Linked DNA regions of Homo sapiens: all the other regions are reported to be linked to region 3. The links are microRNA targets in miRTarBase. Many come from high-throughput screens and were not tested one by one. Region 3 holds a microRNA gene; each other region holds the end of a gene's coding sequence.
What was found. Region 3 holds the annotated microRNA hsa-miR-7973 (UGUGACCCUAGAAUAAUUAC, at 1,318-1,337, shown strand). A microRNA usually pairs through its seed, bases 2 to 8, with sites in the 3' UTR of a target mRNA and lowers its output. Matches are read on the target gene's strand: a 7mer-m8 pairs with bases 2 to 8, a 7mer-A1 pairs with bases 2 to 7 and ends in A, and an 8mer does both.

Region 1 (3,259 bases), not on the chromosome of region 3:
GAATAAAACCCTATGAATGTAAGGAATGTGGCCAAGCCTTCACTCAGTACACGGGCCTTGCTATACACATACGAAATCACACTGGAGAGAAACCCTATCAGTGTAAGGAATGTGGGAAAGCCTTCAATAGATCTTCAACGCTTACTCAACATAGAAGAATTCACACAGGAGAGAAGCCTTATGAATGTGTTGAATGTGGGAAGACCTTCATTACTTCTTCCCATCGTAGTAAACATTTGAAAACTCACAGTGGAGAAAGGTAAATGCAAGATATGTGGGAAAGAATTTCTGTATTCCTCACCCCACCTGTGAACTCCTACCAGAGAGAAACCTTTTGTATGTAAAGAATTTGGGAAAGCATTTGCTCTTTCCTCATGCCTAAGTATGCATGAAAGAATTCACACTGGGGAGAAATACTATGAATGTAAGGATATGAGTGTTGTTACCATTTAGCCCATTGGTTGCCATCTTTAATTATTGGCAGTGCAAAGATCATCAGATTAGTCCTAAATGCCTTTTGGAGGTTGTAATGGCTCACAGATTGGCCTTAGATGCATCCCGAGGGTCTGAAATTAAACCTACAGGTTCTGAATACAACATCATGGTTACCTGAGTCTGGGCATCTGTGAAGAAGGGTCATGGATGGTGAGGTCAGTACTGCAGGCTGCCTCACCTTGGTGATTAGATTCCTAAGATCATAGCATTAACAAGTTCTGTACGAGATAAATCATGCAGATTGATCCCAGCCCCTGTTGGTTAGTGGCTGCCAGTGTGGCACATTCATGTCAAAATTTACCAGAAGCCAAGATGATGTAGGCCCCAGAGGTGGATTGTTAAAAAGATGCTCCTCCAAGGTTCTCTTCTGTTCCCATGGATCCTGCAGAGCATGTCAGGAGTGAAACCATCCATAACTGCCAGTGCCCTTTCACAGCTGATTATTTCTATGTCCCCTTCTTGTAAAATAAGAAGTGTGACAACCTTGACTGTTCTGTTCTGTCTTCTCTGTCCATTTTAGGTGGCACAATGTAAGTGGCAGTGTCTCTTATAGTATAATCCAGTCTCTCTTCTCACTTCTGTTAAGATGGCTGATATAGTCCATGAATCCCACTCATGATCTCTTTATCAAATGATTGTTCAGCCACACTTTGAGGATTCTCTTCAGTACAAGTTTTCTAATTTTTGCAGTATGGATAGGCTGAGAATTTTCCAAATCTCCAAGTTCTGGTTCCTTTTTCCTTAACAATTTCTTCTGCAATTCAGGTCTCCTTTTGCATTTTTGCCGAGACCAGCTGGGTCGTGGAGACCCTAACCCAGTGGCTCTAGAGGAATTAAGACAAAGACACAGAAATATAGTGCAGAGTGGGAATCGGGGCTCACAGCCTTCAGAGCTGAGCTTGAACAGAGTTTGACCCACATATTTATTGACAGTAAGCCTGTGATAAACATTATTCCTATAGATTGTAGATCAGCTATAAGTATTCCTTATGAGAAAGAAAGGGACAGGCTCTGGCTTGTTATCTGCAACAGGAATATGTCCTTAAGGCACAAATCACTCATGCTATTGTTTGTGGTTTAGGAATGCCTTGAGCAGTTTTCCAGTTTTCTGCCCTGGGTGGGCCAGGTGTTGCTTGCCCTCATTCTGGTAAACCAGCAGCCTCCAGCATGGGCGTCATAGCCATCACGAGCATGTCACAGTGCTGCAGAGATTTTGTTTATGGCCAGTTTCTCATTGCCTGTTTATGGCCAGATTTGGGGGGCCTGTTCCCAGCACATTTTCCTGTAAGCACTCAGGAATAATGAAGCTTCCTGTGTCCTTTAACACTTTAATTACAGATCTTAGTGATACATACCATTTTATCTGTCTCAAGCTCTACCTTCCGTAAAATGCTAGAATACAGTTCTGCCAAGTTCTTCACCACTTTATATCAAGGGTTGTCTTTTCTTCATTTCCCAATAGCATGTTCCTCATTCCCCAATGACACCTCACCAGAATAACCCTTACCAACCTTATTTCCAGCTTGCACATCAGAATTTTTCCAGCCTCTACTCATTTGTCAGTTTCAAAGCTGCTTCACATTTTTAGTTTTTTTGTTTGTTTTTAATTGCAGTACCTCACTTCTCAGTACCAATATCTGCCTTAGTCAGCTCAGACAACCATAAGAGAATACCGCAGACCAAATGGCTTAGAAATTAATTTAATTTTAAATCAATGAGGTTAAAAACACAGGATTTTTTTTTTTTTTTTTTTTTTTTTTTTGAGATGGAGTTTTGCTCTTGTTGCCCAGGCTGGAGTGCAATGGTATGATCTTGGCTCACCGCAACCTCCACCTCCTGAGTTCCAGTGATTCTCCTGCCTCACCCTCAGTAGCTGGGATTATTGGCATGCACCACAAACCTTAGCTAAGTTTGTATTTTTAGTAGAGACAGGGTTTCTCCATGTTGGTTAGGCTGATCTCCATGTTGGTCAGATCTGACCTTTGGTGATCCACCTGCCTTGGCCTCCCAAAGTGCTGGGATTACAGGCCTGAGCCACCGTATCTGGCCCAAAACACAAATTTATATTCTCACATATCTGGAGGCTGGAAGTCTGAGATCAGAGTGCCAGCATGGTCAACCTCTAGTGAGAGCTCTCTTCCTGGCATGTAAGTGCCCACTTCCTCATGTTTTCACACGATGGAGACCAACAAATAGGTCGGTCGGTCTCCCCCCTCCCCGCCCCCTTCTCTTTTCACATACAGTCACATTGAGGTTTGGAACTTCATATGAAATTTGGGGGGTCACTGTGTGTGTGTGTGTGTGTGTGTGTATGTGTATATATATATACATATATATACACATATGTATGTATACCTAACTCCTAAAGTGGAACAGTAAGAGTCATTATTTATAGATTATCTGATTCTCTATGTGGAAAGAGAAAAGAATCATATTAAGTACTTTGGACTGAACAATGACCCCCAAAATTCGTATGATGATGAAGCTCTCTCTAAATATTTTCTTGCTTTACTGGACTGATTTTAACCCGCTGCACAACACCAACTAAAAGTAGTAATACCAGCATACTTGTCTTTGCAGTTCTGGTGAGATATGCACTCTATTTTGTTGGTTTGGCTGTAGGCTTTTATTTCTTTTTTATTTTTTGAAGAGGTTATGTCCTGTCAGGGAACCAGCCCCGATATTCACATAGGTTCTTTTCTATTTTCCCTAAGTGTCAGCCAACTTGAGAAATAAAGGGACAGAGTACAAAAGAGAGAAATTT
Region 2 (3,259 bases), not on the chromosome of region 3:
AAAACAAAAACAAAAATAGTGTAATACATATGTATAGAACTAAGTGGAATTAGTTTGGAAGTGGACACCTCTTTATAGAAACTATTTTTGTTTGTCCCCAACTTTTCATTTAGTATCACTCATTCTCAGTATATTGGCATTTCTTAATATTAATTAATTAATTATTTTTTTATTAGCGATGGGCTCTTGCTATGTTGCTCAGGCAAGTCTCAAACTCCTGGCCTCAAGCGATTCTACTGCCTCAGCCTACCAAAGTGCAGGGATTACTGGTGTGAGTCACCCTGCCTGGCCAGTATATTGGCATTTCTGATGAACTCTTCCCTCTTTCTGCTTTGACAGAAATTGTGGGAATGTATTTTGTGCTGGATGCTGCCACCTGAAGCTGCCCATTCCTGATCAGCAACTCTATGACCCAGTTCTCGTCTGTAACTCATGTTACGAACACATTCAAGTCTCTCGTGCCAGGGAACTCATGAGCCAACAGCTGAAGAAACCCATTGCTACAGCTTCCAGTTGAATGCCGGGGAGAAACCTGTCCAATTTTAGCAGGTTTGAAGGGAGGATCTTCTTCAGTTGTAGTTTGGAAGGTTCCTTGGTGTGGCTCATGAAATCACAGAGCTCAGAGATACCATCTTGAGAAATCCTCCTTGGTATCATGAAACTGGAGCAGAGGAATTGCAATTTAGCAGGAGGTCCTCTACTGGTGATACCCTCACCTTGGGGTAATGGTCCTAACCCAGACCCAGGGTCTGGAAGCTTAATGTTGAGTTGGTGACTCCAGCCTCTTTCTCCTGGAGGTCACAAGATGATGATTGCGTAGATGTTGCCTGGTGCAAAGTGCCCCAAACAGCAATAGAAAGGCATATGTATAACCAAACTCCAAGTGATAACCAGACCCATCTCTCCTCCACCTTGACAAAAGCAGATTATAGTATACAAGGTAGGAATTCCTGTCCTATTTGAGATGAACTATATCCTGTACCTCTGTGCTCTGTGTCTGCATGAAGGCTCAGCCTTTAGAGGCACTCCTTCTAGTTGCATTAGTACTGTCTTTCTGTGGAGTTTGGTTTGAAGACTGGCTCAGCAAGTGGAGGTTTCAATGTATTTTTCAGTTGGCTCATCAGCCAGCATTGGTGAATATTCAGTTTAGGGGAACAGTTCTAGGGAGTGAGACATTTTTGGGAGCAGAGGAAAACTCTGCTGATGTTCGGTCCTGGCAAACATTGAGTTATTTTGAGCTGTGAAGGCAGTCGTCTCTGTTACACAGTGGCAGCTCTTGAGTTATGCACTGTGAAGAATGAGAAGGGAAAAGCAAAAATTATCCTTGTGAAATATCTGCTGATTGTGCCCTACTCTTTGCACCTGACTTTTCCTAGTTGTCCTGGTGCTAACACAGGAGCTACACCTTGATCCTCTCCTGGCATGAAAATAAAACAAAGGTTTTCGTTGTTGTTGTTCCATTGCCCATTTCCCCCATGTTGTCTTTCCCTTGGCTGATGCCTCCTCTGGGTCACATTGCTTCTTATCCTGAACACTTGACACCTTGAGGGTAGAATTTAGCGTTTGGTTTTTACCTCCTAGCATATGCTGTTTGGTATGTGAGGGTTTCAGTACAAATGCTGCTGTCTATTTCTGTGCACTTAACAATGGAACCCAAACAGAAGAGAATAAAGCCTTGATACCAAAATTGGGAAAGAACATGTGTCCATTTGGACCAAACGTTGTTGGTTTTTAAAAAATTTTATTTTGTTTTTTTGTTTTTGTTTTTGTTTTTTTTCATCTTAATATGTACCAGTGGCACTTAACCAAAAGATACAGTGATATAGCCATGTACTGTGGGTGGGACAGATACAGTCTCCTTGGCCTATAATGAAACCACTAGGACTTTATACAGTTTTCCTTAATTTGTTGACATATAAATGGTAAATTATATTTAGGCTTATCCTGTTTTGAAATGATGGTAGTCATCTTTCTTACTGCTACTTTCATGTTGCTTTCTAGAAAACAGCATTTCATTCCAAAATAACTAGGATCTGCATTTAGAACAAGAATCATTATTTGTCCTGACCTTTTCAGTCCTACAGAGACGCATCTGTGGTTCTTTTGTACTTGCCATAGATGTAACCTAAAAAGTTTTGGCATATTTAGGTCAGCCTAGCGGAACTTTTTTTTTCATTTAAATGGAGCTGAATAATGGAGATTTTGTGTCTGCAAAATTCCTGAGATCATTGAAAAAGTAACAAGCTGTTCCTTGTTTCTGATACATAAAATTATTTTAAGCATTTTATCAATCATTAAAATTTACTGCCAGTTGTGAGTGGCTTTTTAATTAACTTGTCTTTCATTGCACTTCACTCTGCCTGTTTTCAAGGGGAGTAAGATTGGTAACATTTGGGGAGACTGTATCTGTCTACTTAGCGTGGCTGTTTTGAGGGACTGTCCCATCAGTGAACAAACTGCATGGCCTTGGAGAGAGACTCTGGGCTCTTGGCTCAGATGTGTTCATCAAATACTCCTTTCAGAGCTGTTGTGGGTGTAAGTGACATGATGTGGCCAAAAATCCAAACTGTGCAGTTGCGTTGTGACAAACATGCAATGTGCTGTAAAAATTCAATACAGTTTAAATAAAATCTCTATATTAGTGCTGCTTTGTTGGGTCGTTTTATTTTCATTTCTAAAAAAACTTAATATTCACTTATTCTTTGACCATGAGAAGAGTAGAACATTGTACCCCTTTCTCCCAGCAATTTCCAATTTATTTATTTTGAGATGGAGTCTCCCTCTGTTCCCCAGGCTGGAGTGCAGTGGTGCGATCTCGGCTCACTGCAACCTCCGCCTTCTGGGTTCAAGCGATTCTCCTGCCTCAGCCTCCTGAACAGTTGGGACTACAGGTATGCTACCACGCTGGCTAATTTTTGTATTTTTAGTAGAGACAGGGTTTGACCATGTTGGCCAGGCTGGTCTCGAACTCCTGGGTTCAAGCAGTCCACCCAGCTCGGCCTCCCGAAGTGTTAGGATTACAGACATGAGCCACTGCGCCCGGCCAATTTCCGTTTTCAAATGAACCTCTCTTTTTGAATCAGCACAGCTCTTGTTACATTCTTATTTATTGATTGGCTAGGGATCGATTCTTATGGATACCGTAGAATTCTGTCCCATCTTTATTTCTCTTTAATGTCTAAAATGCCACCAGCTAGTTGGGCAGGCACACAAGATAGTACTTAGATTCTTGTGATTCCCTCCTCCTAGGGACCTCAGT
Region 3 (3,259 bases):
CTCCCGCTTCCATTCCCTCCTTTGCCCTGAGGCAGATGGCTTGGCTTGGAGAGGCTCTCTGGTGTTAGACGCAGCAAGTTTTTCTTTCCCACACCCCATATATGATGGCTCTTTTGAAAATATCTTTCCTCCCCTCCCTCCAGCTGCTTGTGAGGGTGCAGGGCTTTAACTCAAGCAGACTTGGGGATGGATGGGACTCCTTCAGGTTTCACTGTTGACTGGCCTTGAAGAGCTTTGTGGCTTGGCCCCCACTTGCTCTCCTCTCTGCCAAGGCGTTGTGGTTCCCTCCCACTCTTGCACCTTCATGTGGCCCCCACTCTGCCCTGGTGTGCTGGAGGTCATCTTCCCTCCCTTCATGAGCCATTTTCAGCTCATTTTTTGGGCATATTGTCTCTTCATTTGCAAGAAAAAATACAAAGTAGTCTCTGTGAGTGTGATGATTCTGAGTCATTGCATACTGTCATCATTCTAGAACAAAAAGATGTCAAAAGGTGAGTGGATTGATTTCATCTGCAAGGGAATAGGCCTTCTCTTCTTTGTTTTATTCTCTTCTTTGTTTTACCCTTGATGACTCATTCAACCTGAATCAAAGCTGAGTAGTCTTGGCCTTCAAATAGGAGGCTGGGGTGGTGGGGAGCAGAGCAGAGGCACCACCTAAACTGGGGCCATAGGCCTGAACCTTAGGAGCCATGTTCTTATGGCATGGAGCCTGCAGAAGGGGCTGAGAAAATAGAGAGGTAGCATGCAGAGCCCTTGCTCACGTTTGGACCTCGGTTTTCCCATCTATAAAAAACTTAAGGCCAGGCACAGTGGCTCATGCCTGTAATCCCAGCACTTTGGGAGGCTGAGGTGGGGGGATCACTTGAGGTCAGGAGTTCAAGACCAGCCTGGCCAACATGGTGAAATCCCATCTCTACTAAAAATACAAAAATTAGCTGGGCATGGTGGCGGGCATCTATAATCCCAGCTACTCAGGAGGCTGAGGCAGGAGAATCACTTGAACCTGGGAGGCGGAGGTTGCAGTGAGCTGAGATCATACCACTGCAGTCCAGCCTGGGCGACAGAGTGAGACTCTATCTCAAAACAAACAAAAAACCTCAAAAGGATCACACAAGAGCAGGTTGGGAAAGGGCTGGGGTGCGTGGTCTCAGTGTAAATATTTCCCTGACTGACTGTGCTTTCCTACCTTGGAATTGGAACCTTGATTCAAGAAAGGTTCAACGCTCACCTGGCTTAGGAACCTGGAGAGATGGAGAGAACAGGCTTTGCTGTCAGACAGACTTAGGTTTGGATACTCCCTCTCCTCCTTCCTCGCTGTGTGACCCTAGAATAATTACCCAACGTCTCTGAGTCTCGGTTTTGAGAGGGTGAGTAATTATTCTAGGGTCACACAGCCAGGAGGGAGCAGAGGGAATATCCAAACCTAAGTCTTCCACGGCCTTGGATTCATGTAGTCTCCCTGATGGGTTTGCTGGCCTCACTCACCAGTGCGGCCTATGAGGCAGGACTCTGCAGGAGCCTAGAAGTAGTGAAGCAACACCCTGGGACAGCAGCTTTCAACATGGGGACTAGACCACAGCAGGAGGCCTATGAGAATAAAAGTATTGATTTTGGGAAAGAGGGACTTTTTGCCTTTATCATGGTGGAAGCCAGTATCTGTGGAGTCTCAGGCATGTTGGGCTTTTAGTGGTCCACAGACCCCCTGAGGTTCCTACATAGGTGGCCCGGGGGTCCATGAAAAGCTCTGTGCCATTCTGGGAGAGTGATGAGATTCATCTCTGTAGTCCCTCCTTTCAATAAGAGTTTTAGTAACACCCCCTGGAGAATCAGTTCTTTGGGACTCTCCCAAGAAAACCATGACCAAATCATGCTAAACAAATCACACACTGTTCTGCCTTAGAACTCTAACTTGCATCATTGTTTAGCCTGGAATGTCCTCTCTACCCACCAAAATCCTACCCATGTCGGAGACCCAGCTCCAATTCTAACTCTTCTAGAAAGTCCTTCAAAATCTCTCTAGCCCATTGCAATTTTTCCTTGCTCAAAACACATGGTCATGCCACCATTTTCTTCCTGGAGAATGGCTATTGCTTTTGTTTGTCAGCCTCTGTCTTTGTTTCTTCATAAGTGTTGGTTTCCTCCATTTTCCTCATTTCCTACTTCCGACCCAGTCTCCAAACCTGTTGGTTGTACCTCTTAAAGATGTCTCAAATTCCTCAACCTCTCTGCACCTCTCTGGGCTGTTTCCTGGTTCAAGCCACTGTCCCTGGCAACAGCTCCTAATTGACCTCTCTGAATCCGATCCTGCTTGCTTTCATCCACTCTCTACCCCGAGGCCAGAGGACTCTAACATACAAATCTGCTGCTTCAAGCCCTTTATCTCACTGGCCTTGAGATAACACAGAAACTCTCCAACAGGCCTTTCAAAGTCCTTCACTTACGGGCCCCTGCCTACCTTGCTGGTTGTGTTTCTCAACACTCCCCACCTTCACCACCACCGTCACCCAGGCCTGCTGCAGTCCGGTCAGAAGGTTATGCGTGCTTCTGCACATTCTCTCCATGGGGAGTACACTTCCGTCCCAACTGCCAGACCCCTCATGGTGCATGCTTAGCTCACACATACTCAGTCTTCGGGTTTCCACTGTAATGATATCTCACCCACTCAGCCTTGCCCACCCTACCCCAGTCTACACCCAGAGTACCCCCTCCCCTCCCCATCACTGCAATCTTCATTTCATTTTGTAGTTGCTTGTTTACTTGCCTCTGTCCTTCACTAGACTACAAGCAATTTTAGAGCAAGAACCATATCTGCACAGTTTACTGTTGTATACCCAGTTATATGGTTCTTGCTCTAAACCCAGTGCCAGGCTCAGTGTCTGCTGTTGGTAGAGGCTCAAGAAATAATTCTTGAATAAATGAATGAAAAGTAGAATGAACCTATACATCCAGGCCCTCAAGGGCAGTGACTATTCCTCATGCTTCCCTGGATCTCCCTTCAGTGCCTAATTCAGGGCCCTGCAGATTCTGGGTGCCAAGGAAAGGAAGTGATTGTTTGCTCTTAGCAAAAAGGCCTCGTTATTTTAATAGCACGCTCCTCTATTTCTTCATGTTTCCCTCTCTTCAGATGGAAACTTGAACTACGTGCTGGCAAGAATGTGGCTGACAACACGGTGACCTGGATCTGCCTCCAGGGGTGCTGGCAGAGCAGGGCTCTCACGCAGGGTTAGGAGATGCACAGAATTCAAGGCTTCCGAGTGAC

Region 1: miRTarBase lists ZNF562 as a target of hsa-miR-7973. Seed matches in the 3' UTR shown: 7mer-m8 at 2,775-2,781.
Region 2: miRTarBase lists MTMR4 as a target of hsa-miR-7973. Seed matches in the 3' UTR shown: 7mer-A1 at 797-803 and 8mer at 1,508-1,515.

What each region holds. Positions count from the first base shown.
Region 1 is chr19:9,649,953-9,653,211 of GRCh38, reverse strand. ZNF562 (zinc finger protein 562) reads left to right here. Exons shown (of 6, transcript NM_001130031.2): 6 at 1-3,259. The coding sequence ends at 263. Among named protein-coding and RNA genes, the nearest start is that of ZNF562, 24 kb to the left of the region's middle.
Region 2 is chr17:58,488,921-58,492,179 of GRCh38, reverse strand. It overlaps MTMR4 (myotubularin related protein 4), which reads left to right. Exons shown (of 18, transcript NM_001378067.1): 18 at 340-2,643. The coding sequence ends at 517. Among named protein-coding and RNA genes, the nearest start is that of HSF5, 2.1 kb to the right of the region's middle.
Region 3 is chr15:51,312,717-51,315,975 of GRCh38, forward strand. MIR7973-1 (microRNA 7973-1) reads left to right here and starts at 1,318; the gene lies at 1,318-1,393. All of the region lies in intron 1 of CYP19A1 (cytochrome P450 family 19 subfamily A member 1), which reads right to left. MIR7973-2 (microRNA 7973-2) reads right to left here and starts at 1,391; the gene lies at 1,316-1,391.